4 separate regions of the Homo sapiens genome follow, and regions 1, 2 and 3 are each reported to be linked to region 4. The links are microRNA targets in miRTarBase. Many come from high-throughput screens and were not tested one by one. Region 4 holds a microRNA gene; each other region holds the end of a gene's coding sequence.

The links. Region 4 holds the annotated microRNA hsa-miR-548ag (AAAGGUAAUUGUGGUUUCUGC, at 3,479-3,499, opposite strand). A microRNA usually pairs through its seed, bases 2 to 8, with sites in the 3' UTR of a target mRNA and lowers its output. Matches are read on the target gene's strand: a 7mer-m8 pairs with bases 2 to 8, a 7mer-A1 pairs with bases 2 to 7 and ends in A, and an 8mer does both.
Region 1: miRTarBase lists SLC7A5 as a target of hsa-miR-548ag. Seed matches in the 3' UTR shown: 7mer-m8 at 2,975-2,981.
Region 2: the mRNA of PCMT1 is a reported target of hsa-miR-548ag. The part of its 3' UTR that is shown has no 7-base or 8-base seed match.
Region 3: miRTarBase lists MRPL3 as a target of hsa-miR-548ag. The part of its 3' UTR that is shown has no 7-base or 8-base seed match.

The regions. Positions count from the first base shown.
Region 1 is chr16:87,825,748-87,833,907 of GRCh38, reverse strand. SLC7A5 (solute carrier family 7 member 5) reads left to right here. Exons shown (of 10, transcript NM_003486.7): 10 at 883-3,885. The coding sequence ends at 938. Among named protein-coding and RNA genes, the nearest start is that of MIR6775, 4.8 kb to the left of the region's middle. RefSeq lists enhancers at 1,772-2,360, 3,539-4,126, 5,305-5,894, 7,852-8,160 and a silencer at 5,227-5,296.
Region 2 is chr6:149,800,536-149,808,695 of GRCh38, reverse strand. It overlaps PCMT1 (protein-L-isoaspartate (D-aspartate) O-methyltransferase), which reads right to left. Exons shown (of 8, transcript NM_001360452.2): 7 at 6,280-6,496. The coding sequence ends at 6,317. LOC107986660 (a long non-coding RNA gene) reads left to right here and starts at 3,357. Exons shown (of 2, transcript XR_001744415.1): 1 at 3,357-3,393; 2 at 4,903-5,571.
Region 3 is chr3:131,455,552-131,463,711 of GRCh38, forward strand. It overlaps MRPL3 (mitochondrial ribosomal protein L3), which reads right to left. Exons shown (of 10, transcript NM_007208.4): 10 at 6,661-7,324. The coding sequence ends at 7,172. Among named protein-coding and RNA genes, the nearest start is that of SNORA58, 20 kb to the right of the region's middle.
Region 4 is chr20:60,559,904-60,568,063 of GRCh38, reverse strand. MIR548AG2 (microRNA 548ag-2) reads right to left here and starts at 3,502; the gene lies at 3,439-3,502.

The DNA of each region.
Region 1 (8,160 bases), not on the chromosome of region 4:
CACTCCAGCCTGGGCGACAGAGCGAGACTCTTCTCAAAAAAAAAAAAAAAGGCAGAAGGAGAAACCCGCCCCCCGGCCCTGTGTGCAGCGGCAGCCCCAGGGGTGCTTTGTCACCAAGCTCAGGACCCCGTCCTCAGCGCCTGCAAATGTGGCCAGGCTCGTAGAAAAAGGCCGGGGTGCTTGCGGGCCTACATGCTGATCCCCATGTCACTGGGTGGCTTGGAGAATTCCCGGGATGGCAGCAACACAGGCAGGGAGACCCCCCACCCCTACCCCACACTCTGATCACCGCCAGGGTCATGGTAGAACATTTGCCTCAAGCTTTGCAGTGGGATCTGCATTAACTGTCATTCAGGACACCAAGAGCTTAAAGCAAACCCCCGTCTCTATCCTGAAAGCAGTCCCCCTCCACAGAGTGATGTCTCTGTAGACAGTCCCAGGCGCGACAGGTCTTCCGAGGACCCGTTAGCAGATTGGCCCCTCCGGCCCTGCCTGCTGTGAACAGTCCAGGCATGTGTCCAGGTGGTGGCCCGGGTGTGGACCTGCAGGAAGGCCTGTCATCCCCCCGTTGCACTTTGCTGAGACACCAGGGCCTGGTTCGTGTGCCCCAGGGGCCGCACTCTGCCTCCCCAGGGTTCTGAAGCAGGCGAGGGGTGGGCCGAGTGGGATGTGGCACTTCCGCATTTCAGTTGAAGACAGCGCCTCGGGCACCCGGCACCCACATGCGCAAGTACACAAGGGAAGGTTCCTTAAAATCCCAGCGCTGGGCAGCGGCGCTGGGTTTGGTGACAGCAGGGCTGGGGGAGCCCCAGCTCACGCCCCCGTGTCCCACGGGTGCCTACCCAGCCCCCAGGCTAACACAGCTGTCTTCTCTCCTGACAGTCTCCACGACCGTCCTGTGTCAGAAGCTCATGCAGGTGGTCCCCCAGGAGACATAGCCAGGAGGCCGAGTGGCTGCCGGAGGAGCATGCGCAGAGGCCAGTTAAAGTAGATCACCTCCTCGAACCCACTCCGGTTCCCCGCAACCCACAGCTCAGCTGCCCATCCCAGTCCCTCGCCGTCCCTCCCAGGTCGGGCAGTGGAGGCTGCTGTGAAAACTCTGGTACGAATCTCATCCCTCAACTGAGGGCCAGGGACCCAGGTGTGCCTGTGCTCCTGCCCAGGAGCAGCTTTTGGTCTCCTTGGGCCCTTTTTCCCTTCCCTCCTTTGTTTACTTATATATATATTTTTTTTAAACTTAAATTTTGGGTCAACTTGACACCACTAAGATGATTTTTTAAGGAGCTGGGGGAAGGCAGGAGCCTTCCTTTCTCCTGCCCCAAGGGCCCAGACCCTGGGCAAACAGAGCTACTGAGACTTGGAACCTCATTGCTACCACAGACTTGCACTGAAGCCGGACAGCTGCCCAGACACATGGGCTTGTGACATTCGTGAAAACCAACCCTGTGGGCTTATGTCTCTGCCTTAGGGTTTGCAGAGTGGAAACTCAGCCGTAGGGTGGCACTGGGAGGGGGTGGGGGATCTGGGCAAGGTGGGTGATTCCTCCCAGGAGGTGCTTGAGGCCCCGATGGACTCCTGACCATAATCCTAGCCCCGAGACACCATCCTGAGCCAGGGAACAGCCCCAGGGTTGGGGGGTGCCGGCATCTCCCCTAGCTCACCAGGCCTGGCCTCTGGGCAGTGTGGCCTCTTGGCTATTTCTGTGTCCAGTTTTGGAGGCTGAGTTCTGGTTCATGCAGACAAAGCCCTGTCCTTCAGTCTTCTAGAAACAGAGACAAGAAAGGCAGACACACCGCGGCCAGGCACCCATGTGGGCGCCCACCCTGGGCTCCACACAGCAGTGTCCCCTGCCCCAGAGGTCGCAGCTACCCTCAGCCTCCAATGCATTGGCCTCTGTACCGCCCGGCAGCCCCTTCTGGCCGGTGCTGGGTTCCCACTCCCGGCCTAGGCACCTCCCCGCTCTCCCTGTCACGCTCATGTCCTGTCCTGGTCCTGATGCCCGTTGTCTAGGAGACAGAGCCAAGCACTGCTCACGTCTCTGCCGCCTGCGTTTGGAGGCCCCTGGGCTCTCACCCAGTCCCCACCCGCCTGCAGAGAGGGAACTAGGGCACCCCTTGTTTCTGTTGTTCCCGTGAATTTTTTTCGCTATGGGAGGCAGCCGAGGCCTGGCCAATGCGGCCCACTTTCCTGAGCTGTCGCTGCCTCCATGGCAGCAGCCAGGGACCCCCAGAACAAGAAGACCCCGCAGGATCCCTCCTGAGCTCGGGGGGCTCTGCCTTCTCAGGCCCCGGGCTTCCCTTCTCCCCAGCCAGAGGTGGAGCCAAGTGGTCCAGCGTCACTCCAGTGCTCAGCTGTGGCTGGAGGAGCTGGCCTGTGGCACAGCCCTGAGTGTCCCAAGCCGGGAGCCAACGAAGCCGGACACGGCTTCACTGACCAGCGGCTGCTCAAGCCGCAAGCTCTCAGCAAGTGCCCAGTGGAGCCTGCCGCCCCCGCCTGGGCACCGGGACCCCCTCACCATCCAGTGGGCCCGGAGAAACCTGATGAACAGTTTGGGGACTCAGGACCAGATGTCCGTCTCTCTTGCTTGAGGAATGAAGACCTTTATTCACCCCTGCCCCGTTGCTTCCCGCTGCACATGGACAGACTTCACAGCGTCTGCTCATAGGACCTGCATCCTTCCTGGGGACGAATTCCACTCGTCCAAGGGACAGCCCACGGTCTGGAGGCCGAGGACCACCAGCAGGCAGGTGGACTGACTGTGTTGGGCAAGACCTCTTCCCTCTGGGCCTGTTCTCTTGGCTGCAAATAAGGACAGCAGCTGGTGCCCCACCTGCCTGGTGCATTGCTGTGTGAATCCAGGAGGCAGTGGACATCGTAGGCAGCCACGGCCCCGGGTCCAGGAGAAGTGCTCCCTGGAGGCACGCACCACTGCTTCCCACTGGGGCCGGCGGGGCCCACGCACGACGTCAGCCTCTTACCTTCCCGCCTCGGCTAGGGGTCCTCGGGATGCCGTTCTGTTCCAACCTCCTGCTCTGGGACGTGGACATGCCTCAAGGATACAGGGAGCCGGCGGCCTCTCGACGGCACGCACTTGCCTGTTGGCTGCTGCGGCTGTGGGCGAGCATGGGGGCTGCCAGCGTCTGTTGTGGAAAGTAGCTGCTAGTGAAATGGCTGGGGCCGCTGGGGTCCGTCTTCACACTGCGCAGGTCTCTTCTGGGCGTCTGAGCTGGGGTGGGAGCTCCTCCGCAGAAGGTTGGTGGGGGGTCCAGTCTGTGATCCTTGGTGCTGTGTGCCCCACTCCAGCCTGGGGACCCCACTTCAGAAGGTAGGGGCCGTGTCCCGCGGTGCTGACTGAGGCCTGCTTCCCCCTCCCCCTCCTGCTGTGCTGGAATTCCACAGGGACCAGGGCCACCGCAGGGGACTGTCTCAGAAGACTTGATTTTTCCGTCCCTTTTTCTCCACACTCCACTGACAAACGTCCCCAGCGGTTTCCACTTGTGGGCTTCAGGTGTTTTCAAGCACAACCCACCACAACAAGCAAGTGCATTTTCAGTCGTTGTGCTTTTTTGTTTTGTGCTAACGTCTTACTAATTTAAAGATGCTGTCGGCACCATGTTTATTTATTTCCAGTGGTCATGCTCAGCCTTGCTGCTCTGCGTGGCGCAGGTGCCATGCCTGCTCCCTGTCTGTGTCCCAGCCACGCAGGGCCATCCACTGTGACGTCGGCCGACCAGGCTGGACACCCTCTGCCGAGTAATGACGTGTGTGGCTGGGACCTTCTTTATTCTGTGTTAATGGCTAACCTGTTACACTGGGCTGGGTTGGGTAGGGTGTTCTGGCTTTTTTGTGGGGTTTTTATTTTTAAAGAAACACTCAATCATCCTACCGCTGATGTTCTGTGTTCTTTTCTTCTGCGCCAGGTTCTGTGTATAGGAACGTTCCTGGCCCCCTCTTGGCCACCTCATTCCTTCCCACCTTCACACATTCATTCATTCATTCACCGACAGCCCACTTAGGCCGCTGGGTGGGGGTGAGCCATGGGCGGGTTGCACACATGTGAGCACGCACCCCTCGAGGGTGGGGGTGCCGAGCCAAGATATCGGATCTGCCTCGGGAGTGGGGGGCAGGCAGCCTGCGCAGGGATGTTCAGGTGGAGACCACCGGGGAGGAGGGGGAAGGTTCCAGTCCCAGGGAGCTGCAGGGGTGAAGTTGGGAGGGGTTTGGGGGTCACCCGCTGAGAGGATGCGGGGCTCCAGCTCCTGGGAGGTCAGGAAGGAAGCCTTTCTCCAGCCTGGGATCAGAGCAGGAGAGGAAGCGGCACCGATTCTGTGTTCCCAGGACACTCCCGAGCCTCTCAGTTAAGGGGGCGAGTCCGGGGCTCAGAGCATGAGCCCCTCATCCACCTCCCAGCACGGGGTGGGAAGGCAACCATAGGGCTCCGTCCTGGATCCAGTGAAGGCTGCTCCTATCTGCAGGACTCACGCAGTCCCAGCTGAACGGGAGGTGGGGGACAGGCCCTGAGTGGGCCCCATAGTCTGAGTCTTATCCTGGAGCCACCGAGTCCCGCGAGGAGCTGGGAGGGCTCCAGAAATACAAAGTCACTGGAGTGAGCAGTCAGCTCCACAGGGTATTAGCAAAGAGGCCTCCTGGCTGCAGGTCTCCTGGGACTGGGGGTTGGGCGGCTTTTCCCTAGTAGGCTGGGCACCCCCCTCCCCGCAGCCCTTTCTTTAGGGAGACCTTGCCCAGTGATGGACCAGGGCATTCTGGGGTGCAGCTGGGAACCTTTGCAGCAACCAGGGTCACCTAGAGCCCTGGCTCAGGATCTGTGTGAGCCCCCCACTCTGACCACCCAGGCAGGAAGGGCCCACCCACCTCCCATGGGTTCTGGAAGGATTCGGGCGCATTGTAGTAATGTCTTCACTACTGGGAAGTTGAGGCCCAGGCCTCTCAGTGCTGTTCAAAGGCAAATTAATCCAATAGCTCACCCCCTCACAATTGAGAACTGGCTGCCCTCTAAGGGAGCTGGAATTTGGAAAGCAATTTTTGGAGCTGGGGACCTTGGATGGCCCTGCGGCAGGTGCGTACCCCTTTGCGGACTTGACCGTTAGGGTGGGCTTGTCGAGGGACAGGAAGGAGAGAACTCACAGGCTGCCCCACCCCCGACACTGGCCATGTGAGGTCACCGGTGAGACAGGCCCCAACACACCTGCACCAGCATCTGGGGACTCCCTGGGGGCCTGCTGAGTGATATCCGAGGGTGGGGCTGGGAGCCACAGGTGAGCCAGCCCTGCAGGTGCTGCTACCAGCATGGTGAGCAGCCTCAGCCTCGGCGGCCCTCCCAGGTGGCATTTCAGTGACTGCCAGCCCGCCTGGCCCCCAGCCCAGCTGGCTCCTTCGAGATGCTTGGTGCCAACATGGAGCTCAAAGAGCCTTGGGCTCCTGGAAACAGTGAAGGTTAAGAAACCCCTGACCCCTGTGTTCTGCTTGTGCAGAGAAACCTCTTCCCATGTGACTTGAGGGAGACTCAGAGATGCCCCCACCCCGGGTCTACCTAGGGCAAGGCCCAGCCCAGGCCCTGAGTCCCCTTGACCTCGCCGATGACCGGCAGGGATCCATCAGAACAAAATGCTTGCTGACCAAACCCAGCTCGGCTGCTCTCCCTCCCCTAGGCCCAGGACCTGGACCCCCTCAGCCTGGGCCAGCCTGTGACTTCCCACTCCCTGAGACCAGGCTGGCCCGGGGAACCCCTCTATCTACTGCCCCTCAGGCCCCGCGCCCAACTCCCCACACAGATTCTAGCCTTGTTCACACCCCCATAAAATAAAAAACCCAGGCTGGGTGCAGTGGCTCACACCTGTAATCCCAGCACTTTGGGAGGCCAAGGCAGGCAGATCACCTAAGGTCAGGAGTTCCAGACCAGCCTGACCAACATGGTGAAACCCCTTCTCAACTAAAAATACAAAAATTAGCCAGGCATGGTGGGGGGCATCTGTAATCCCAGCTACTTGGGAGACTGGGGCAGGAGAATCGCTTGAACCCAGGAGGTGGAGGTTGCAGTTAGCAGAGATCGCACCATTGCACTCCAGCCTGGGCAACAAGAGCGAAACTCCGTCTCAAAAAAAACAAAAAGCCTTTGCCTAACCCTGGAGCTCCTTGTAGACCCTGTGGTGGGAGCAGAGATCCCCCATTGCGATAGTCCTCGGTGCTGCAATAACCTTTTTTTTTTTTTTTGAGACGAAGTCTCACTCTCACCCAGGCTGGAGTGCAGTGGTATGATCTCAGCTCACTGCAACCTTTGCCTCCCAGGTTCAAGCAATTCTCCTGCCTCAGCCTCCTGAGTAGCTGGGATTACAGGCCTCCCAAACTGCTAGGATGACAAGCGTGAGCCACCGCGCTCGGCCTGCAACCTTTTCAAGTCAACTCCTTTAAAAACCCTGATTTGTTCTTCATCCCTCAGTCCCCTGCCGAACACCAGTCAGAAAAGCTCCTCCTGCCCTTGAAGAGAAATGCAGACGCCCCACAGAGCTGCAGCCCCACCAGCCCTGGCCCTGCCCAATCTCCCTTTTCCAGTCAGGCTGGGCCCCTGGAGTCCCCGAAGCTCTGCCCCGCACCCCCATCCGCCCCCGTCCCGGGGCTTTCCACTGCCTTCCACTTAGCCTGGATCACTCTCCCTCCAGGCCACCCTTCATGGTCAGACGCCTGCCCTGACCCAGCCCCTGTCCCCCCCCAGAGCACGGTCTGCACCCGCAGTGCTGGTGTTAGCGTTCTTGCAGTCACCCATGGGTGCACCCCCACCCCGGGAAGGTTCCTGAAGACAGGTCATCTGCCCTGTCCCCCACTGGGTCCCCCAGTTCCAGGGTCTGGTTGAACAAAAGCCTTGGTCAGTATTTGTGGAAGAGGTGAAAAAAAATGAAGCCAGCACCCCATCTCAGCTCGGGGGCCCCGAGTGAGCGGCGGCCGGGCCCCTTGGGTGGGGCGCAGGTCTGCGGGAAGGTGGGAGGGGCTCCCTTCTGGGCTGCAGCAGTTACGGGTGCCCAGAGACCGGCCAGGCCACTGCAGGGACCAACGTCCAGCCCTGTCGACGGAGGTGGACACAGGTAGGGGAATGTCAAAATCAAAGCCCGACCCAGACTTTTTGTTTTTCTTTGAGACAGGGTCTCACTCTGTCACCCAGGCTGGAGTGCAGTGGTGCAATCTCAGCTCACTGCAGCCTCGACCTCCCAGGGTCAAGTGATCCTCCTGCCTCAGCCTCCTGAGTAGCTGAGACTACAGGTGTGCACCGCCACACCTGGCTAATTTTTTTTTAACTTTTTGTAGAGATGGGGTCTTGCTATGTTGCCCAGGCAGGCTGGTCTCAAACTCCCGGGCTTAAGTGATCTGCCTGCCTGGGGGGTTCCCAAAGTGCTGGGACTACAGGTGTGAGCCATAGCACCTGGCCAATCCAGACTTTTTTTTTTTTTTTGAGATGGAGTCTTGCTTTGCCACCCAGGCTGGAGTGCAGTGGCGCAATCTTGGCTCACTGCAAGCTCCGCCTCCAGGGTTCACGCCATTCTCCTGCCTCAGCCTCCCGAGTAGCTGGGACTACAGGTGCCTGCCACCACGCCAGGCTAATTTTGTTTTTGTATTTTCAGTAGAGATGGGGTTTCACCGTGTTAGCCAGGGTGGTCTCGATCTATTGACCTCGTGATCCACCCGCCTAGGCCTCCCAAAGTGCTGGGATTACAGGCGTGAGCCACCGCGCCCGGCCTTTTTTTTTTTTTTTTTTTTTTAATTGAGATGGAGTCTCACTCTGTCACCCAAGCTGGAGTGCAATGGTGTGATCTCAGCTCACTGCAACCTCCGCCACCCGGGCTCCAGTGATTCTCCTGCCTCAGCCTCCAGAGTAGCTGGGATTACGGGCACTTACCACTATGCCTGGCTACTTTTTTTAATTTTTATTTTTAGTAGAGATGGGGTTTCACTATGTTGGCCAGGCTGGTCTTGAACTCCTGGCCCCAAGTGACCTGCCGGCCTCAGCCTCCCCAAGTGCTGGGATTCCAGCCATGAGCCACGGTGCCTGGCCAAAGGTTTTCTTTTATGGGGGATGTGAACAAGGCTGGAAAGAATTCAACCTTGTTCTTTGTTCTTGTGTCGGGGGTGGGGTGGGTGGCCTCAGGGACA
Region 2 (8,160 bases), not on the chromosome of region 4:
CACTGCACTCCAGCCTGAGCGACAGAGCGAGACTCCATCTCAGAAAACAATAATAATAATAATAATTTACTACAATTTACCTGCTGCAAGACATTAAGTATACTGTAAATAAATTAATGCCCCCTCAACAACATAGGTACCATTTTTCCAACTATCCTCTCTGTCTAAAAAATACTTTAAAAAAGGAAAAGAAATTAGGTTTATAGACCTGAATTTTAAAATTAGAGGTGCTAGGGAAAAACAAAAACTTGCTGCCAGCGCGTGCACAATTTTTTAAAAGCCTAATACTCTAAAATCCATGTAACTTTCAAGTTATTAAATTTTCCCCAATGTTCAAAATTCTGTATGACCATTTCTTTATCTGACTTACATGTATAGATCATTTACAATAAAAAATAGTATGTACTAAATTTTTAGAAAGGCTCTTTAAAATTGCTATATACTATGCTAAATATATTCATTAGGTTAATAACTGTATATATTTCTACTAGTATATAATTATACATAATTTAATTATTTATTAGATTTTATTAACTCTATGATACTAACATTTAGTCTTATACATTCTTTACCAAGAATAAATGAAAAGATATACTATAAGGAAACAACAATCAAAATCCATGAACGTTTTCTAATAATTTCATGGATCTTCCAAGGTAATAAAAGTGTTGTACAATTTGCTTTGTACGAAGCACTATGAGAGACAAAAAGAATTCCAAAAGTAACAGAATATATCCCTGCTTTTAAGGATGTAATGTATGTCACAATACTGGAACATATGTAAAGAGATTAAAAAGGAACAATATAGAATATGGAACACGGGATCAATTGGATCCCTTAGCACCAATACTGTCAGTCTTGGAAATGCAGTCAATTCCTAACATCTTTTTCATAGATGCAAGGCACTTTAAGAAGACATCAATAAACAAAGAGCTTATGGAATAATAAACTTGAACATTCCTCAGTTTCACAAACTAAAGATGGACCAATTACACTAACTCTTGTGACTACTAAAAACAAAAATAGTCTGGGTGTGGTGGCTCACACCTGTAATTCCAGCAGTTTTGGAGGCTGAGGCGGGTGGATCACTTGATGTCAGGAGTTTGAGACCAGCCTGGTCAACACAGTGAAACCCCGTCTCTACTAAAAATACAAAAATTAGCCGGGCCTCGTGGTGCGTGCCTGTAGTCCCAGCTATGCGGGAGGCTGAGGCAGGAGAATCACTTGAACCCAGGAGGCGGAGGTGCAGTGAGCCAAGATCGCATCACTGCACTCCAGCCTGGGTGACAGAGCAAGACTCTGTCTCAAAAATATCTATAAATAAATAAAAATAAAACTTTTACCAGAAGATTAACAAAATATTTTTACATATAAATTATTTATTTAAAATAAAATAATACTTAAGAACTATTAACTTTCTGTAGCAACTAATACAACTATTACATGTCCATAGTCATGAACACAATTCCACAGATTCTAGGTCTCTGGCCTATAGATCTGGCATTGTCTCCCCTTCTATTAATCCACCAAAATTACAAGTGACATCTTTCCAAGTGTAAAAAGACTCAAGTCTACATTCAAGTTTGGATCTTTACTTGGTACTAGAATTCCACATGTCCACTAATTCTCATTTTTAAAAATACAGTTTCTGCCACATCGCCTCAGCAAAAATGGGATCTCACCCTCATCAGAGCACCGCAATTAGCTCTGGATTATTCCTCAGTAAGAAAGGTGGAAAGCTGGTGAGACACAAGAGAAGGTTCCTAGGAAAGTATTATAATGAGTTAAAGTAATCCTGAAGAAAGTTTGAGGCTGGTGGCTCAAGCCTGTAATCCCAGCACTTTGGGAGGCTGAGGTGGGTGGAACGCTTGAGCTCAGGAGTCCGAGACCAGCCTGGGCAACATGGCAAAACCCCTTGTCTACAAAAAAAACAAGAAAATCAGCTGAGTATGGTGGCACACCCTGTGGTCCCAGCTACTCAGAAGGCTGAGGCAGGGGGGATCGCTTGAGCCCAGGAGGTTGAGGCTGCAGTGAGCAGAGATCATGCCACTGCACTCCAGCCTGGGTGACAGAGAGAGACTGTATCAAAACAAAACAAAATAAAACAAAACAAAAACAAAAACGGAAAGTTTGAAAGAACAGAAATCACGTAGCCTGGCAAGAAGTTGACTAGGGAACTTTTTAGATGATAATTCCCAGAAAACAGTGACAGTATTTTAGATGTAGCTATCCACCCACTTCTCTCTATCCTTACTAACACTGCCTTAATGCAGACCATCATTTCATCCTTGAATTGCTATAACCACTTCCTGTTTCTGACTCGACTTTTGTCCCTTCCCAGGCTAGTCTCTACATAACAGCTAGAGTTATCTTTCTGAAATGTAATTCTGACCACTTCAATGCCTGGCTCCCTACCGCGAGTCTGAACACTACCCTATAACTGCCTATTCATCTTGGTCTTTGCATCTCCTACGTTACTGTAAGCTCCATGAGAGCAGTCAGTTTCAAATTCACAGCTGATGACTCCTGGCACCTAGTACAGTGCCTGGCCTAGTTGGCATATGCATATTGGTTGAATTCACGAATAATATTAAGAAGATCCTCACGCTGAAAAATATTTAGCAACTGAACAAATGGCCAAAGAAAAGCATCTACAACAGAAAAATTAGAAAGTCCTCCTGGTACACCTGGAGAAATTTTTTTTTTTTCTGATAGTGCGAACATGTAAGTTTGCTCAATTTTTTTTTTTTTTTTTTGAGACAGAGTCTTACTCTGTCGCCAGGTTAGAGTACAGTGGCACAATGTAGGCTCAATGCAACCTCCACCTCCCAGGTTCAAGTGATTCTCCTGCCTCAGCCTCCCGAGTAGCTGGAATTACAGGTGCCTGCCACCACGCCCAGCTAATTTTTGTATTGTTTTTTTAGTAGAGATGGAGTTTCACCATGTTGGCCAGGATGGTCTCGATCTCCTGACCTCGTGATCCGCCCGCCTCAGCCTCCCAAAGTGCTGGGATTACAGGCGTGAGCCACTGTGCCCAGCCTAAATTTGTTCAATTTTTAAAAAACTTTGAAGGTCAAAAAGAAAACCAGGTATACATTTTTTGAGACGGAGTCTCGCTCTGTTGCCCAGGCTGGAGTGCAATGGCGCGATCTCAGCTCACTGCAAGCTCGGCCTCCCAGGTTCACGCCATTCTCCTGCTTCAGCCTCCCGAGTAGCTGGGACTAGAGGTACCTGCCACCACGCCCGGCTAATTTTTTTGTATTTTTAGGAGAGACGGGGTTTCGCCATGTTACCCAGGATGGTCTCGATCTCCTGACCTTGTGATCTGCCCGCCTTGGCCTCCCAAAGTGCTGGGATTACAGGCGTGAGCCACTGCGCCCAGCCTAAAAGCAGGTATACATTTAATGTTTAGCAGATGACTAATTGTCCATAAATTTAAAAATTATTCTAAATATATTTTTTAAAGATAAGGTCTTGCTCTGTTGCCCAGCCTGGAATGCTGTGGTGATCACAGCTCACTGCCGCTTCTGGGCTTAAGTGATCCTCTTATCTCAGCCTCCCAAGTAGCCAGAACTAGAGGTGCACACCACTACGCCTGGCTAGTTCTTAAATTTTTAGTAGATACGAGGTCTCACTATGTTTCCCAGGCTTCTCTTGAACTTCTGGCCTCAAGTGATCCTCCCACCTCAACCTCCCAAAGCATTGGGATTACAGGCATAAGCCACCATACCTGGCCCTATTTTAAATTTCTTAATACAAATAGTTTGGTTTTATCAAAGGTGGATTCAGGTTTTGTGGGGGCCTAAGGTTTATATAATTAGAAAACAGGGGAACCTTTTTATGAAGTTAAAAAAAAAATCAGTAAGACTATGCATAATATAAAATTAAGAACAGGGCCAGGCATGGTGGCTGACACCTGTAATCCTAGCACTTTGGGAGGCCGAGGCGGGCAGATCACCTGAGGTCAGGAGTTCGAGACCAGCCTGGCCAACATGGTGAAACCCCTTCTCTACTAAAAATACAAAATTTAGCTGGGCGCCTATACTCTCAGCTACTTGGGAAGCTGAGGCAGGAGAATTGCTTGAACCTGGGAGACGGAGGTTGTAGTGAGCTGAGATTGCACCACTGCTCTACACAGCCTGGGTAACAGAGCAGGACTCCGTCTCAAAAAAAACACTTTTTTAAATTAAATTAAATTAAGAACAGGGTCAGAGAAAACCTAGACAAGCAAGGGCTCTGCAGCTTCAGCTTTGTTAGCTTCACAGTAAATCTACCTCTAGTCATAAAAACAAAATTCCCTTTTTATAATTCCTTCATAATTATAAATTATAAATTATAGGCAAGATGTTCAACACTAATATTTATTGTATATAAAAAGAAAAATTTCTAAGTTGCTAATGAAAATCAACTCTTCTTATCAAATTTCAGTAATTTCAGTAACATATTTGCCCCTTTTATACTACAATAATCTCACAATTATGTAATTGTATAAACCATACTAGAAGCAAAGTGAAGGAAGGTTTTAGTTAGTTGTTAATAACTACATCTGATTCCAGTTGAAAAAACCAGTAATTTTTTAAATGCCTTTTTAATTTTTTTTTTTTTTTTTTTTTTTGAGACAGAGTCTCGCTCTGTCACCCAGGCTAGAAGGCAGTAGTGTGATCTCGACTCACTGCAACCTCTGCCTCCTGGGTTCAAACAATTCTCCTGCCTCAGCCTCCTGAGTGCCTGGGACTACAGATGCAAGCCAACATGCCCAGCTAATTTTTGTGTTTTTAGTAGAGACAGGGTTTCACCATGTTGGCCAGGCTGGTCTCAAACTCCTGACTTAAGATGATTGGCTCACCTCAGCCTCCCAAAATGCCTGGACTAAAATGCTTTTTTTTTTTTTTTTTTTTCCAGTGGCTGTGCTCCACGTATAATTCACAGAAAATAGCTATTGGTGAAGAATAAAAACAACATTGAGAGATCTATTAAACTTATTATCACCCCTTTTACTTATTAAGAAACTAATTATTTTAAAATAAGAATCTTTATGTCAAATAAAAATAAGATGCTAAGACAAGGAAACTGTAAAGCCGTTCTTGTTTTGGCATTTAATTTCAAGTAATTTGAGCTAATGGCACTGTTATGTACTGATGTCACTCTCTCTCATGGAAGGGAGTGGGAAGGGGAGGAAAAGAGAAATCTTGGCTTCAAACAAAATATTCAGATTATGCTGAGACATAAAACAAAAGTGGACATTCTTTATAAACCATGCTGTGCTGAAAGTTGCTGCATGCTGCTGACCCTCTGGGTGGGTTTGTGAGACCTGGGCACTCATTGGGTAACTTGTAGAATCCTTGCCTCTTCCTAGGAATTTAGCCAGAATAGCTTAAACAGTGGCTGGCCTATTCTATAGAATGGGGAGAAGGTGACTCTTAAACAAGGCTGAATGAAAAATAGGCATGGGCTGTCAGGTATCTATGATTTGGTTGAAACAGATAAACCAAGCTGAGAGGTAGAATGTCCTCTCTGGTATTCTGACATTTTAGAAAACTGAGACGACCGTTATCTTTCCCCTTCTTTCTCCTTGTTGGTACAATAAACAGGGCAGGAAATGATGGCCCCTTGTTTTTTTTTTTTTTTTTTTTTTTTTTTTTTGAGACAGAGCCTTGCTCTGTCTCCCAGGCTGGAGTGCAGTGTCAAAATCTCGGCCCACTGCAACCTCCGCCTCCAGGGTTTAAGCAATTCTCCTGGCTCAGCCTCCCGAGTAGCTGGGATTACAGGCCTGTGCCATCACGCCCAGCTGATTTTGTATTTTTAATAGAGACGGGGTTTCACCATGTTGGCCAGGCTAGTCTCAAACTCCTGACCTCAAGTGATCCGCCCACCTAGGCCTCCCAAAGTGCTGGGATTACAGGCATGAGCCACTCCGCCTGGCCTCTTTTACAGACCAAACTCATTGTTTCCATGCCCATCCAGTGCTATAAAAATAATTTAAAAACATAAAAACAGAGTGGCTGATAATGAAGAAAAAATCCTTACAAAGTACTGAATTGAAGCTGAAAGTCTCTCTAAAAAAAAAACAAACAAACAAACAAAAAAAGCCTTTGTGCCAACCAAGTCTCACCCTCCCTTTCCCAAAGATATATATGTTAAACCAAAATAAGGGCAGACCATGCAACATTTTTCACATTTTTAATGTAATGAATTTCTGACGTTATAATGGAGGAGCATAAAGGTGACAACCAAAAACAGCTCTTGTAGTCTAATGTCTTAAAATCCACACCCTTTCACCTTGCATGTGTGGAAGAAGAAAGAGCAGAAGATAAAATCACTTCCACCTGGACCACTGCTTTTCTTTATCTGTTAAAGGCACGTATATCACCCCCATCAGAGGCTTCATTTTGATGCTGCCATCTTGTAGCTTGTCATACTGCTCCAACATTTGGTTTCCGCCTGCAGGACCAACAGGCAATATCAATCTTCCTCCGGGCTTTAACTGATCTATTAGCTAAAAGAAAAAAAAAAAAGCACATACATCACCAAGTTACAGATTTTATTTTATTTTATTTATTTATTTTTGAGACAGGGTCTCACTCTGTCGCCCAGGCTGGAGTGCAATGACACGATCTCAGCTCACTGCAACCTCTGCCTCCCAGGTTCAAGTGATTCTCCTGCCTCAGTCTCCCAAGTAGCTGGGACTACAGGCACACGCCACCATGCCCAGCTAATTTTTGTATTTTTAGTAGAGACAAGGTTTCACCATATTGGCCACACTGGTCTCGAACTCCTAACCTCAAGTACTCCACCCACCTCGGCTTCCCAAAGTGCTTGGATTACAGGCGTGAGCTACTGTGCCCGGCCCAGATTTTATATTAATAGTCATTTGACATCATTATAAACAACTTTTAGTGTCCATAGGCAGAAAGCAGAAACGTTCTTTATTTAGTATATACAAATTAAGGCCAGACACGGTGGCTCACGCCTGTGATCCCAGCACTTTGGGAGGCCAAGGTGGGCAGATCACTTGAGGTCAAGAGTTCAAGACCAGCCTGGCCAACACAGTGAAACTCCAACTCTACTAAAAAAGTACAAAATTAGCCAGGCATGGTGTCAGATGCCTGTAGTCCTATCTACTTGGGAGGCTGAGGCAGGAGAATTGCTTGAACCCAGAGATGGAGGCTGCAGTTAGCCAAGATCACGCCACCACACTCCAGCCTGGGTGACAGAGCGAGACTCCGTCTTAAAAATAAATACATAGTATATACAGGTTGAGCATCAATAATCTGAAAACCCGAAACTGGAAATGCTCCAAAATCCAAAACTCTGAACATCAACATGACACCACAAGTAGATAATTTCACACCTGACCTCATGTGGCAAGTCACAGTCAAAATGCAATCACAACTTTATTCCATGCACAAAATTATTTGAAATATTATACAAAATTACCTTCAGGCTATGTGTATAAGAGGTATAACATAAATGAGTTTTATGTTTAGACTTGGTCCCATTCCCAAGATATCTCATTATGTATATGTAAATATTCCAAAATGTGAAAAAATCTGAAAAAATCCAAAATCCAAAACACTTCTGGTCCCAAATATTTTGGAGAAGGGATACTCACCCTGTACATACTTTGATTGTTATATTATTACTCAACTATCAGCCTCCTCTATTAAACGACAAGCTCTTGAGGATGGGGACTGTGTCTTATTCATCTTTGTGTCTTTAGCATCTAACACAGTACCTGGTACAACTGTAGTGCTCAAAATGTTTGAACTGAACCAACTAATATAGAACTATCCTCTTGGCGGGCCAAAGGCAGAGCATAGAATTCTAATGCCTGTGTGCCTGTTTTGAATCTTTGTGGGTTTGAAGGAAGGAGGAGGGGAGGAGAGGAAGTGTAGAAAATCAGCAAGGAATCCCTATCCTATTATTGTAGAATCTAGGGCATCACTGAAGGGATAAGGGAACCCTAGTTATACGATTCAATTGAGGTTTACTGGTACCATAAGGAGGGAAGGTAGGGCTGGAGTCCCTGCAGTGTTAGAATGAGGACACTCCTGTCAATGAAGAACCAAGAGTACTCAATGGAAGCTCTTACAGTCAGAAAACTTTTAAATCATGTTACCATTTTCATATAGCTTTACGCATCACTATTAATAAAAAACA
Region 3 (8,160 bases), not on the chromosome of region 4:
CAGAATTTTCTCCAATTTGAATTGTTTCAGGGAGATGACCAATTAACTGGCCTGAGTTCCACAAATGATTTGCCTGTCTACGTCATGTTGTTTTAGGTCAGTATTTCTTAATCTCAGCTTATTAGCCCCTCTTCAAATGGGAGTTAAATATTTAACTGGGGAGCTTTAAAAACCACTAATGACTGGGTCTCCTACTCTCTCCTGCCCCCCAATTCCAAGAATATTGGATTGGGGATTTTAAAAGCTCTTCTGTGGGGATCTAACATGCAGCCAGTGTGGAGAACTACTGTGTTAGGTAAGAGTAAGACTTGCCTTTGTAAGCCACTGTGAAAATTCCCTGTGCCTGACATGCCCCCTTCTTGTGTCCCCTTGTGTTTGGGTGGACCTTGTCATAAATACTTATCTCAATGACTCCTGGACCACAGAAACTTGGGCCTCTCTTTATGGCTAAGTGGTGTCTAAAAATGGGCTTTGGATCATTAAATCACAAAATCACACCTTCTTCCCATGGCAGGCATCCTCGTTGGTTACTGGCTAAAGAAAATTACCATGTGAGCAGGGAGATGCTGCCTGTCCCAATATTATAGATCTTTCTTTATTTGCTTTCTATCAGTGCTTTTTTTTTGCCTACTTCCTCAGCTTTGATTTATGTTTTCCTAAATATCTATTTCTTCTGTTCTGTCATTGATATTTTAGCAGTAGGCTGGCTGTTATTAGCAACGTGCCAAACTCTGTTTGAGGAGGGGGAGATAAGCACACCATTACCCCACAAAGTAGGGCATCAGATTCCGTGCTTCTGCAGTTAGCAGAAAAAAAGGGACAGTCAGCCAACAGCTCCAATGCCATCTTTGCTTCATCATTTAAACAAACCACTATTTTAGATAAGGAAATTTACGTTGGATTCTCAAGACAGCCATTTATTATTATTCATTTTGACACAGTCTCGTTAATATAGCCATCCGTGCATCTTTGTCAGGACTCTTGTGATGGAGTGTTTAGTTAGTTCCTTTTGAAATCAAGCAGATTTGGTGCAGTGTCAAAAACTGATGGATGTCTTATCCTCATTTGTTCAAACAACAAACTTTCTAAATGACCTAAAATATACTTGGTGCTCATATAGTCTGCTTTTGGAGAATCAAAATCACAACTCTCACTCTCCAGTCAAATCCAAAAACCAACAATTACGCACCTACTATGCCAAGACTCTTTGTCCAGTTGAGTTAAAATCATTTGTTTGCTTTTGTGGTGCTAAGGACCGCATTCGCTGAAATTAATATGGCCTGTCTAACTTGAACAGGCCACCTCATTAATCTAAAAAGAATAAAACATGTGACATGGACTGCTATTGTTTGCAAACATTTAAAAGCAGAAAAGCAAACGATGAAATTGAGGCTGGCAACCCTGCATGCTCAGGACTGGCTGTTTTCTGGAGGGGATAATGACACTGAGTCCTCTTATTCCAGGGAATCCTAGGTAATTGCTGGAGGCAAAGTCTGAATGACAGTCTTCATTTGTCTGGTGGGACATGCTTTGAGAGACCACTATCATTTATGGGGCCAAGCTGGTGGATGAGGTGTTCTAGCAGAAATAGCAATAAAACTGAAAACTGAAGAACTGTCTGTTGTTATAGTAAAGTCAACTTTAAGAAAAGTCCCTGAAGAGAGTAGAAGCTTTATCTATCACTACTAAAATAAACTCTCATGTGAAGAACTTCTTCCCATAGAGAAAACAGGTAGCCATGAAGTAACACATGATTATAAAGCTATTGAAGATGTTTGCCCAAGGTGGCCTCATAGCATAGTGAGTTGCTTCTGTCTGCCTGTCTTCACTCTCTTGGTTCAGCAGTTCAGTAAGTTATCAGCAACATGCCCTACCTCATCACGAAAGTGCTCCATTATAAAACTGTTCATAAAAGCATGATAAGCAGTAACATGATAAGTACCATAATAGAAACATAACATTCTTCTTGCCATAGTTCCTGCAAAAGTGGGGAAAACTTCCCAAGTGGTGACCTTCAGGCAAAACAGGCAGTAAAAGGCATTTTTAGAATCACACACATCCTACCAAGGGAAAAGAATCAGCCATAGAAAAATAATGTAGCTAGTAGAAGCACATCACACTCCAGGCTAGAAGACAAGTTTGCAAGACTCAGTGCCACAGGAAGCCCACACTGTGTTTCTACTCTGACAAAAATGAGGAATAACACCAACATTTAAAGGTATTCATCCCAGAGGTCCAAATAACAGGTTCAGAGTCAGCAATCTGAACACTGCTCTTTCCTCCCATCATGGGTTTTCACTGTGACACAGCCAACAGTCTCTCTTTGGGCAACGATTTAGGGCGTAGGTTCAATTTTGCTGGAATCAGGAGAGACTTCACTCTGACACACTCTTTCTCAAAGAGGGGTTTTTTGATTAGTACAACAAAATAAGCTACTGGATGTAAGGCAAGTAATCCTACAGACTAACGGAATTCATTCTGCATATGAGGAACCCTAAGTACGAACTCAGCTTCCGTGTGTTTGACTGTATTCTAATACTCTTTACACTAGAAAAACAGGCCATAGTTCTATACACATTTCTCCATATGTCCTGAAACATGGTCAGGTCCCATCTGCAAATTTACCTTTGGAAATTAGCTGTAAAGGTCATCCTTATATTCTACCCCTTGAGGAAAGTTGAAAAGCAGATTTGTACCTCACCATTAGACTGCAAAAGCACTACTGACTCAAAAGCACTACTGATTCTGAAATGCTTAATATTCTTGTAAAGTATATCCTTATACTTGCTGTAAGAAATATTTTCATTTACAACTTAATGTTTGTGACAGCTGGCATCATCCAATTTACCCATGCCAGGGGCCACTGTGGAAATAGGACTAATTAACATTTGCATTTCAGCTTCGGCTACCCTAGCAGGTAGGAAAAAGGTCTTGGAGAGGAAGGATGACCAGTAGTCTAAGTAGTGTAAGGGATACTCTTGAAAGTATTCCTTAATCTGTTGGCCTCTATAAGACTTAGAGAATTATCCAAGGTTCAGTATTTCCATATTTTATTCCTAATAGCTAGTACCAAGTATGCTGGAACAAATGTCTAATTTGAATGAAGTTTAATTACAAAAAGGTTCTCCATTTCAAGACAAAATCTAAAACAGTAAATCAAACTCAAGCTCAACTCAGGCCCAAGACAGCTCCACTGCTGAGAAGTGAATTGCCACCGTATCTGTCCAGTGGTCAGCACTGCTCAAGAGCAGACTTCTAGTACTGCCTGGGATCCAGAGAGTTGAGCAGGAGAGTACTGGGACCATGTACTCCCTATCTATAGTAGGCAGACTTCCATTTCCGAGCTGAACATTTGAGGACAGATGCTGAGGCAAAATGTTTGTGCTGTAGCCAGAAATAGTAACCCTAAGGTTCTTGGGAAATCACATTTTGTAGTGTTGGACTAGGCAGACTGGTTTAGGTATTCCACAACTGGAGAGAAGGACACAGTTCGTCTGGGCCACTCAGTTTGCCAGAATGGAGTCTGGATCCTCTTCAAAGGATATGTACCTGTAGAAGCTGCTGGCAGTGGGGACTGGTTGGGGTTGGGGGGTGAGAGTGAAAGTTTTGTTCCCTGATTCTAGAAGACAGGGATCATACTTGTAATCCTGGAAGGTGATCAGAAATGCTATTTTAAAACTCAAAAACAGATCCACAGACCACCGACTATAGTGAAAGAAGATGGTAAGTTTGGGGCAGGCTCTTTAAGTGCAGAAGGTTGCCTGCCTTCGTCAAAAAATCTTATGTCTGGGCAACTGGCTACCTTCATATACTGATTCCTTTTTCACAAATAATGCAGGTAAAAGATTTTATGTTCTCCCAGAAATAACTGTCCATTTGTCTCGCAAGATAACAGCTCACTGACAATGCACCTAAGTTAGTCAAGAGCTCTGATGAAGATGTACAAGAATAATGTTGTTTCCATGCCTAACACATCTATTCTGTAGTCCATGCATAAACGTGTAATTGTGACTTTCAAACTCTAATTATTTAAGAAATATGTTTTGTAAGGTTACAGTTGCCATAGTCCTTAATATATGAAGTTGCCATAATCCTTCAGGAAAGGATTCACCATTTTAGATGCCATTAAGAACATTCATGATTCATGGGAGAAAGTAAAAATATCAACATTAACAGGTGTTTGGAAGTTGATTCCAACTCTCATGAGTGGCTCTGAGGGGTTCAAGGCTCCAGTGGAGGAATGAACTGCAGAAGTGGAGCCTGAAGATGTGACTGAATTGCTGCCATCTCATGCTAAAACTTGAACAGATAAGGAGGTGCTTCTTATGGATGAGTAAAAGTGGTTTCTTCTTATGGATGAGTAAAGAAAGAGGTTTCTTGAGATTGGATCTACTTATGGTGGAGATGCTGTGAACACTGTTGAAATGACAACAAAGATTTAGAAAATTCCATAAATTTAGTTGTAAGGCAGTAGCAGGGTATGAGAGGATTGACTCAAACTCTGAAAGAAGTTCTACTGTGGGCAAAATGCTATCAAGCAGCATTCCATGCTACAGGGAAATCTTTTGTGAAAGGAAGAGTCAATCAAGTGGCAAAGTCCATTGCCTTATGCTAAGAAACTGCCACAGCCACCCAACCTTCCAGAAACTACCACCCTGATCAGTCAGCAGCCATCAACTTTGAGGCAAGACCCTCTACCACTAAAAAGATTACAACTTGCTAAGGGCTCAGAAGATCTTTGGCATTTTCTGACAATATTTTAAAATTAAGGTATGTATATTTTTAAAGATACAATGCTATTGAAACACACTATAGACTACAGTACAGTATAACTTCTATATGCATCAGGAAACTAAAAATTCTGTGATTTGCTTTATTGTGATATTTGCTTTATTGCCGTGGTCTGAAACCAAACCCACAATATCTCTAAGGTATGTCCGTATAAGTTCCTAAGCATAGTATGGGGGCATATCTAATGTGTACCATTTTAAGTAGTGGCTATTCTTGAATTTACACTTTCACATGAATTTTAGAATCAGTTTGACTAGCTCTAAGTCCTATTGAGAGTTTTAAAACAGGATTCAAATGAATTCTTTACAATATAACCTTCCCATTCATGGCCATGATATTCTGCTCCATTATTGAAGTTTTCTTATCTATCTTTCAAAAAAGAACATAAGACTCTAGCATATTTCTTGTTAGGCTTTCCCTAGGTGATTTTTAATTGCTATTATAAATAAATATCCATTTTTCCCATAAAATATTGCTATATGTTAGTGTATTAATCTTGTACTGTTACCTTTTTCAACTCTATTGGTTCTGATAGCTTGTCAGTTGTCTACCTTTCATCTTCTAGGTAAATATTTCTTACAAATAATGAGATTTGCTCCTACTTTCCAATTTATCTCATTACTTTTACTTGTCTTACTGCACTGGCTAGGACACCCAAGAATACTGTTGAAGAGAAGTTGTAGAGGGTATCCTTGTTTGATCCCTGAAAAGAATTCTTCTAGCATTTTACCCTTGTATATGATGATTACTAGAGATAAACTTTTAACAAGTTAACAAATTTCTAGTTTGATATTTTTTTTTAACCAAATATGGTGTGGTGGTTTTAAATGTAATCTACTCCAGTTAAAGACTATGACACTCTATTATTATCACTAATCAAACTCATGAATAATGAACAGTACATAAAAAATAATGTTATGTTTTACTTTAGCACCCAGGAAGCTCAAAACCAAACTATCTGAATATAACAACTCTGCACAGCATAGCCTGCTCATCTATATGACATTGACACTATTCCCTCCCCCAAAATACCACCTATTCTAATTTATATTATCCTAAATATTTTTCTCTTATTTTTCTATTTTATTGAGTGGATTTCCTATCAATTGCCATACATTTTTAATGGAATAAGATAAAGTATAAATAAAAACTTTAAAAAAACGTGGCTACCTTTGGATTTGAAGTGAAAAACGTGATATAACCAGGACAGTATAGCACATGGAAATCTAACACTATGACTAACAAACGTATTGGGTGATGTGAATTAAGAATCTGGTTCAGAGGAAATCAAGTATTTAAACTGAGGTCTGCTTATACACATGGTTAAGCTTATTTGTCATGACTAGCCATTAGTAAATACATGTTAATTTCATACAATTAAAAAGAAACCCACAAACCATTAGCATTTTGATTAATACATGATTAATAAAAGTTTGCTGAACATACAATCTTAGATCATTATAAATTCTTTTTGAAAGGTAGACTGGGTGCAGTGGCTCACGCCTGTAATCCTGACACTTTGGGAGGCCATGGAAGGTAAAAAGCTTGAACTCAGAAGTTCAAGACCACCCTGGGCAACATAGTGGGATTCTATTTTTACAAAAAAATACAAATATTAGCCAGGCATGGTGGTGGGCACCTATAGTCCCAGATACATGGGAGGCTGAGGTGGAAGGATCACTTGAGCTCAGAAGGTCGTGGCTGCAGTGAGCCAAGATCGCACCACTGCACTGCACTCCAGCCTGGGCAACACAGCAAAACCCTGCCTAAACAGAACAAAACAAAACAAAACCAAAACACACTGATCTTATAATTGAGTGATAAAACTAAAAAGTAATCACCTCTCCCAACAAAAATGTAAACAGGACCGATAATTTATGATTTTATTGTCTTTCCTTTGTCCGGCCTTTAACATGTTTCTGTAATTTAAATAAAAATCTATTTACTTTCTCCATTTTAGCAAATGGTTTCTTTACCCAAATAGGTTGCACTATAGTCCCCATATGGTTTTCTACTGTTCCACAACCACTATTTCACAAAGATTGACAAAACTTTAATAAAAGTTAAATTTACAGACATCTTAAGATAACTTGGGAAATATGTAGTAAAAAAGAATCGAGTCCACAAATTAAGAATATTTTGCTAATATGCCCAACACCAATTTCAGCAAATCCAATCTACTTAACTCATATATTTAATGTGGTAATTTTTCTAACAAAATTTAATGGGGGTATGAATGATATATTTATGCCCTTGACAAAGATGACATGTGTGATTTTGTTGTGACTAAGAAAGGAGAGTATGATTTCTGGTGGTTATGATATCACTCTGGCTCATCGAAGCTCACAGAATATGTAAGGTTCTGCCACGTCCAAAGATGTTAGGCAAATGTAATAGAAGGCGCACCGGGCTGACACACGTTTTCATCATACAAATCTTCTGGCAGTTCCTCTTCATCTCCATCAGGAAAATATGTAGGGAATGGTAGATTTTTACCGAGATCCTTATATGCAGGCAGTTTAGAATCTTTGACCTGAGAGAAGGCAAAAATCTTAGTGAAACCAATTAAGTTCTTTAAAGGTAGACTTTTCAGCTATTATTCATAATCAAAGAAATACTCGCTACTACATTTTCTAATGTGAATAACACAACTGTTACATAAATAGAGTAAAAAGAACTCAGTCAATGCTTTCCTTTAATTCTAAAAAATTTGACTAATCCAGTAACAGAAACTCAAGAAGCTATAAGGATAAAATCACCAATTGTTACTTTGTATCTTAACTTGTAAGAATCTCTAGGATTGCCCACAGGATGAAATCACATTCTAAAATTACTACTTGAATTTCATTTATATGGATTCATTTTCAAATATAATGACCTGACAAACTAGCATTTTTGTTAGTCTTAACTCTAAGAGCACATAATCAAAAATATCACCTCTTATTAAGGAAATCAGCTTACATTTTTCTTCCCCTACCAAAAGAGTCATTTCTCCAACAAATAAAACAAACAAGATTGTATTTCTATGTCACATGGTCAAAAAAAAAAAAAAGTCCTGTATTGACGGAAAATTTAAAGTTAATTCTTCAGCATTTTCAAATTTGGGTAAGGGCCTTTAAGTTGAGACTATTTTATATCATTCTTGATTTAGCACTGAATACTTCCATGGCCTTAGTGCATTTTTCTGCTTATAGGTGTGAGCAACAAGAACCAATCCTATCTTCATATACAACAAATGCAGCACAATGTATGTCAGAGCATACATTCTTATTGATAAGTTAAAGACAGAATAATATTTAGCAAAAACAATAACAGACCTATGGGTCTTTATAAGAGCTCTGTTAACTCTATATATTCTCAAAAATTCTA
Region 4 (8,160 bases):
AGCAGCAGCTAAAGAAGTTGTGTCTATCATCTGGGGTCTTGAGACAGGAGTGGCATGTCAGGGATCCTGCGGGAAATCACATATGCATGTGTCAGAGCAATGGTGGACACCCCAGAGGCCCTTCAGACTTGTCCAGAGAAACCCTCCCTGGGAAACACTTGGGGTGTCCTGGTAGTGTCTGACAGATCATGTGGATTGTTCTTAGTGGCTCAAGGAATGCATCGAGTTCTCTTTCTGGCTTCTCAATGTTTTCTTGAGAAGAAATTGTTTTTAATCAGCTCCTTTCTAGTGTTTGCTTTTTCCTGAGCAATAGTCAAGGTAATAAATTAATTACTTAGAGAAAATCCATGTAGTTCTGTGTTGACATTTCCAGATAGAACACCTTAAAAATGTATAGCGTCTCTCAGAGTAGGTGTTCCCATGCATTTGAATGATGCAGCGTTAATGCCAAGTGGAACAGTAAGTCAACTCCAGGTTTAGGCACAGAATTCAAAACGTTGCCAATTTCTCCTAGTTAAAATGTAGTTGAAAGTCACATAGTTTTGCACAAGTTGGCAAACTGCAACCTGTATTTGTGTAGTCACTGCCCCAGCTGGGAAGCAGGAGGCCCTGACACACCTCAGCTGGATTTGTCTTGAATTAGGCAGGTACAATCTAAAGCAGGAGACCCTGCCTTGTTCAAAGGCCAGTTATGGACTCAAACATACAAACTCCAAGGCAAGATGCCCCATTGCCACTGATAACTCTGTTATTTTATGTGTCCTGTCTTAAAGGATAGCCTTTCTCATTGGGGCCCCACCCTGAGGGAGCCTCCTCCACACCCTTTGGTCGGCTACGTGTCCCGCTGAGTGCGGCCATTGGATCAGCAGTCCTCAGACTGAGCCAGAGCAGCTGGGGCACACAGAGCTCTACCATGCTCACTGTTGATGGGCTGAGGAGCCTTCACCAACTGACTTGAGTTGACGCAGACGCAACCTTCTGTGGAGTACAAATTCCTCTTGTTAGGATTTTCTCCCTTCACTGAGATACAGGTTGGGTTTCATGAAGACCTACAGAATGTGCACTGTAGGGAAAGAACACAGGACCCCTCACTCATCCATACACAATTCAAAATTAAAGAAGACAAAACCATAAAAGAAACCTAAGGAAGTCCATCAAAAGTTTTATTTTCTCCTAAGTAGGACTTTGTGTTTTGTGAAAGAGGAACAGCCTTTAAAACACTTTTCCCCCCCATTTCTCCACCTGGCTGGTAGTCTGAGCAGGTGTAGCTCCCCTATGGCTGAATCCAGCCCCGAGCCCAGTGCAGAGCCAGATGGGGGGACGGCAAGGATGAGGCCGTGCAGGTGGGTGCTGCTCGTGTTTTGCACGCTATCACAATTTCTCAAAATTGTCATTTGCTTTTTATTTAGTTCTGTTGAAATGTGGATTCTCAGGACCCTCTGGCTTGTCTTTCGCCATCTGCAGGTGGGCCTTCCTGGATGTCTACAATCGTCTGCAAGCCACCCTGCTTCACACGCCCTCATGGGACATGCAGGGGAGCACAATTCCCGGCTCAGGGTCTTGCTTGTGACACCAGGAACCCCTGAGCTAAACTGCAAGCCTGGCCCCTCTTACCCTGTGAATCTCTGGGCAATTATCCCCTCTGGTCTTCAACTTCCTGGCACACAAAGTGTGGCCACAATAGGGTAACCATGCATGTTGTTTTTCAAACTGGGGTGCTTTTAAGAGCACAAAGGGACAATGTGTCATTATGTCACGGCAAAAGGTGGAAACAGGTTCCAGACTAACTGGGTCCTATGGGTTAGTCCTATGATTATGATACGCCCTCTTCCTCAGAGGGCCCTTTCAAGTATCCAATGACATAAAGAAAGGGGTGTAAAGCGTGTGGTCTCTAATAAGTATCTGTAACACCATGTATCACCAGTGTTGGTGTCACATCATTAAATATCCAGGAGGCATTTTATTGTTTTAATTATGCTCTTACAGCAAATAAAGAAGAAAAGCTGAGGAAAGAGGGACCTGTTGACATGATGATGAAGCCTACGTGCTCACAGCGTCGTCAATACAGAGCCTGTGTCTGATCCATGGGCACTGAACAGGGGAAAGAGACAGCCAGCCCTGTAGGACAAAACGCTGGAGGATGTCACAGTTCTTCCACTTCTTCCACATCTGCCTTTCCAGTCCAGAGGTCTGGATCCTTGTTGGCCTCTGCCCACAGAGGGACATGACAGGCAGCGTGTGCCTGGGCTGTTTTCCCACCAAAGCCTGGTCATATATTAGCCCTGCACTGTGAGGAACAGATGGAGTATGTGGTGTCCCAACCCTTCCTCATCTCGTTTTTAATTTGCCAACCAGCCCCGTTGGGAGGAGCCAAGGGATGCAGTGACTTTGCTGCTCTTCCTCGGGTTCTGCCCAGATATGTAATTTCTATAAAAACACAAATTCTGCTGGTTTGCTTGATGGCAAACTTTCAGCTTTCTTTCAGGAACTTGTTCTTCAAAGAGATTGTGTCTCAGTAAACCTGTTCCTATGTCTGTTGCTTTATATTGCACAAAATATAGAACTTTCGCACATCATAACTGGAGAGCATTTTTGTGACTTTTGTGCCAAAGAGGCTTCAGTCCTTAGCCCACAGATGCTTCCTGTGATCAGGAGATGGTGTGCTGTTGGAAGTGGCTTCAATCCAAGGCTTCCAACAACGACACCGTCTCAGGTTAAAAGGCTGGTGCTGTGTTCTGGCAAGCACTGAGAGCTGCTGGCTGGATAGGAACCCTCCCCGCCCTTGTCTTCCTGCTTGCTAAGCAACTCCAATTTAGTCCAGGACAGTAATGCATCCAGCCTTGTAACCAAGAGGAAAAAGAAAGGCCCAGAGCGCTGATGTGAGAGCTGCTGACACCATGAAAGCAATTGCCTGGAAAACAAGCAAATGAGCAGGCAGACTCTGTTAAGTCATTGTCACCAGCACACTTGAACCCAGGGAGCGCTTGGCCAAACCCAATTGTGATTAAAATGTACCCAGTGTCTTTGCACCCAGCTGCGTTAGATTTTCTGGGATTTTCTTTATGGTCCCCCAAAAACTCCCCAAACTCTCTAAGCCTCTTTTTCTCCCTCTGTAACTTAGGCACAATAATAACTCCTGGATGAAGTGTTCATGGGCCTTCAACAGTATATCTGTGAAAGCGTTTTGCGAGCCAGATATTTGTTGTCACTATTCGTTGGTGCACAGATTCCGCCTCAACCTGCAGAGGGAGGACCAGTGTGGTTTATCCATAGAAAGGGAAGGGGCTGCCTGAATTCCAGATGGATTAAACTCTCTCTTTCTGTTTCTCCCAGCCTTCTCCTACTTCCTTCCCTGAGCTCCTAACTAAAAGCGAAGGCTGGGCTGCTAAACAGCTGTGTGTCCCCAGGAGGAAACCCATGGTGGGCGTGTATTAGGTCGCTGCAAAGGTAATTGAGGTTCTTGCCTTTACTTTCAATGGCAGAAACCACAATTACCTTTGCACCAACCGAATACGTTGTTTGACTCACATTTACGGAGAAGCCTTCACACACAGCTCTTCAGCTTGGTGATTCCTGCTTCCGGAGAGTGGGCTAATTAAATTAGGAAGGGAGCGGGTTGTCATTAGACAGCCAGAGACACTATCACCCATATCTAATTTTGTTCCTGGTTTTAGATAGAGTCATCTCCTTTTGATGCATATAATTTAAGAGGTTAATAATTTTGGCTTCGAGCATGAATAATAATTCATTATTAGCAGAACAAGAGAGAGATTCGGCTTTCTATAGTAACACTCGGTCTGAATTTGTTTTTCCTTAAGTTAGGAACAGGAGGAATGCGCTTTTTGGAAGTTCAAAACCGCCAGTTTGATAGTGTTCCCAGCAAGTCTCATTTCAGTTACAGGATTAACAAATCAGACACTCGCCCTTGGTATCTAATTAGCTTTGTCATTTATTGAATTTCAGAGTTCCCTAGTCAAAATAAAAGACCTTTCCCTACTTATATTAAATGATCATGCTAATCTCCATTTTAACACAATTAAATTTTACTCAAATTGTTTAATTTTTTAAAAAGTGAGAAAAATGTCAGGGACTGACTAGTGTTTAAAACAAATGACCGTTCTCCACTATGAAGCCGTTGGCTGTAAACTACCATCTCTATGATTTCCCAGAAGGACAGGGGTACATTAGAATGAAACATCTGCCCAGAAGAGTCTCTAATTACAAGAAGTGTAACACAAAAAACCTATTTCCCGAATTAATTCCTGAAAGTTGAACTAATACTAAATGCTAAATACTGAAATACTCAAAATACTAAAAAATACTAAAATCCAAGGTGAAAATAGACTGCCAGTGAATAAACAGACTTGTGATAAGGAGATCCAAAACCAGATTGTTCCTTTGGAGACAAACAGATGTCAGCTTCTTTTGTTTGTTTCATTTCTCTAGGCCAATGTGCTGACTGCTTATTATTTTCAGTATGATAAAGTTTTATTGGAAAGTAGCCTCACCTATCTGTTTAGGTGTTGTCTGTGGTTGCTTTGACACTGTGACTGAAACTGTGGCCGTCAAAGCCATGGCAAAGCTAAGGAGAAACGTCTTACAGCATTAGCCTTTAGTTCCAAAGTCCATGTTCAAATTCATCCACTATTCTTTTTTAAAAAATAGATCTGTCCCATAACAAATACATACAAACAAACACACCCCCACCTGCACACAGCCTGAAAACTGAGATGTAATCGTTTAATAATGATAATGGAATACTGCAAAATTTTTCCTAATTTTTCTCTGTGACACCACAAATATGCATTGTACCACTCGTGTTCAGTTTATGTAATGTCAATGCCCATTTCTGCTTATTGACTCATTTTATCATACAAAACTGACACAAGCTTCTGATTAATCTGTCTCCAAAGGATCAAAATGCTTTAATAAATACATTGTTCCTTTAGGTCTGGGAAGAAATGAAACTGTTAGCTTAATGTACTGTGACATTGAATGAAAACCTCTGGTTGCATTTAACTGGAAAGCCAGCTAGATAAATCCGGAGGACCCGTTAAGTAAATGACACCACACTTTCTTAATGGCCAATTGGGGCCTACCTTCCTGAAGCAAATAAATAAGAAAGATTTGAAATGGAATTTGGGGGTTTCGTTCGTTGGTTAAATTCTCAAAGGGGTGGTGTACCTTGGATAGAAATTATGACAAAAATCCGTGGCTTAAGGTAATCCTAATAGGGAGAGCAGAGAGAGAAGAACAAAACAATCTCGGTTTTTTATGGGAAGAGGTGAAGACTCACAAGATGGGAGAGAGCCCTTCATCTAGCGGTTCTCGAACGTGGTGTGCCCCAGAATCATCTGGGGATCTTGTTAAAAATGTGTGTTCCTGGTCTGGATCCCAGGAGACTCCAGCACAGGCTATGCTGCCCGTGCTTTCTTTAACGGCTCTCTCCTTTCCTTCAGAATCCCTTGAGGCGGGTGATTTGCTCTGTCAGGCACACTGCTGGCTCCTCCCCTCCATCACCACAGCCCTAAGCATTAATCCAACTATGGCCATTGAACAGGGCCCTTTCTCCTGGATGTGAAACCCAAATCCCCAGCTTTCCAAATAGCACTTGGGGGTCTCGTCTAAGGCCAAGGGCAGGGCCTCCCCTGGACAAGCCATTGTCAAGGGCTCTAGCACCAGTGATCACTGCTGCTTAGAGAAGAAAAGTGGTGTGAAACTGACCTGCTCTCTGCTGGGAGCCACAAGCTGGAGGAGGCGGCTTTGGGTTTCAGCATTAATGCTTTCCCTGCAGATCTTTGATTTTCCTTGATATCTGTGTTCTCCCCATGCTCTCCCATCCCTTGTCACTGACAGGTGCTTCTTACCTGTCCTCTTGCCCCCCTCTATTCTCTGTTATTGAAAATAACATCTCTATGAACAACTCCTTCTTCCTGCTCTCCACCGAGTATTTGGGGACATCCATGCCACTGTGATCAGCAGGACTCTCATTTGCTTGGCATGTTCAGTCTCCCAAGAGCTCCCCAGCCCACTTACAGGACAACAAGACCCCCAGACCCAATGAGGCCACACTGCCCACATGGTTTGGTGATACAGGGCACACCATTTTTCGGGGGTGGAGAGTCAGTCCCTGAAGAATACTACAAAAGGAACAAGGAAGATGCTCCTGGGAGCAGGGATAAAGGACAGGAACATTCAACCACATTTAGGATTTTCATGACTCAGAAATGAGTGGCCAAATATCTGGACTTCAGATCTTGTCAAAGAGCTTTGTGATGGCCAAACACTTTTGGCTCTGTTACAAGTCATCCTATTTACTCAGCCCTGCTAGCCATGTACTAGAAAGTTCTACAGCTTGTTCTTCTCTACCACTGAATCACATCTGAAAACTTATCTTAGGTGCTTCTTATTCATTTATAGCTATGAGATGCTTTTCCTCTTTTTTTAGATTTTGCCATTTGAAATGTGAATCTCCCCCTGCTCCCCACCAACACCTTCCATCAGAAGATGTAATTAGATGGGCCTCTACCTGCATTGTAGCCGCTGAGGAGTTGATTATATCTGAAGTCAGGTTTCAGGAAAACAGACTGGGAGGTGGATATTTTCCTGTGGCAGGTTCACAGGGAGTGTTCTCAGCAACACCCGACAGTGGAGGAGAAGGGCTGGGCAAAGGGAGAAGCTAAAGTGCAGTGCAGTTGCCCAGGAGGCCTCGCCAATCTCCAAGGGGACCCTGGAGATGGAAGGCACTTCTTTTTCATTCAAATTGAGGCAGCATGGCTGGGCCTTTTTACCACTGAGTAGACCAGCCACTGAGCCTGTGTTGTCCCGGGGAGGGGATATAGGCTAGGGTGAGGCCATTGTCTTGGGGAGGTGCAATGCCTAGAGAAATATAGCTGTCAGCTGACAGCAGCCAGAAGCCCTGCAGAGGGACATCAGGGGCTTGGTCTTGAAGGGATGATCTGGGCCATGGACCCCAGCATCCAGAGATTTACCTTTCAAGTTACAGAACCATCTAGCTGGCCTTGTTTTGCTGTTTGTCTCTAAAAGCAGATTCTGCAGAAATGAAGACATCCTATCTCCTCCTCTCTTGAAATCAGATTTATCCTCAAAAGTCGTCTACATCCAACTGCTCTCCCCACCTTAGTGTGAGCTACCATCATCTGTGCCCTGTGCTTCCACAGCTCCCTGAAATGTTCTCATGCTATTACAGCCATCCCACTACTCAGCAGCTAGTCCAGCATCACCCTCTTCTCGGGACCCTCAGTGGGCTGTTCATCAAACCCTATCCGACACCCAAGCCATGGTCCACAGGCTCCCAGTGATCTGGCTGCCCCTGACCCCTCCCTGCCCTGCCGGCCCCTCTCCCTCATCCTGTCGAGCGGTGTTGGCTTCCTTCCAGTACCTGACATTCCAATCTTTGCACATCTCTTCTCCTTTCTGGGGCATCTTGCCCTAGATTCGTGGCTTACTCTCTCAGCTCCCAGCCTCTGCTCCAACCTCGCCTTTCTGAAGGAGTCTTCCCTAGACGTCCTGGGACAGTGGCCGCCTGTCACCCTCTAGCATTGGATCCTGCTTAGCTTTTTGCTGCGGCCGTTTTCCTGTCATACTCCTTTTATTCTGTGTCTGTTTAGTTGTGTGATCCCTGCCCCACCCCCTCAAAATGAAAAATGTAAAATTCCATGATAATGGTGACTTTGGTTGTTCACAGTGGATAAATTTTTTTTTTTTTTTTTTGAGACAGAGTTTAGCCCGGGCTGGAGTGCAATGGCACAATCTCGGTTCAGTGCAACCTCCGCCTCCCAGATTCAAGCAATTCTCTTGTCTCAGCCTCCTTAGCTAGGATTACAGGTGCCTGCCAGCATGCCCGGGTAATTTTTGTATTTTTAGTAGAGATGGGGTTTCACCATGTTGGCCAGGCTGGTCTTGAACTCCTGACCTCAGGTGACCCACCCGCTTTGGCCTCCCAAATTGCTGGGATTACAGGCGTGAGCCAACATGCCCGGCCAAGAAATTTCAATTCTTTAGAAGACAGGGATCCTTCCAATAAGTGGCCTTTTAGGAGCCACTTGGCGAGGTGCAAGACCTCATCTTCGGGGCAGCCCATTTTCGCTTCTCCTTTCTGAAAGTTCTGTTGATGAGTTTCTGCACATCGACTTCAGC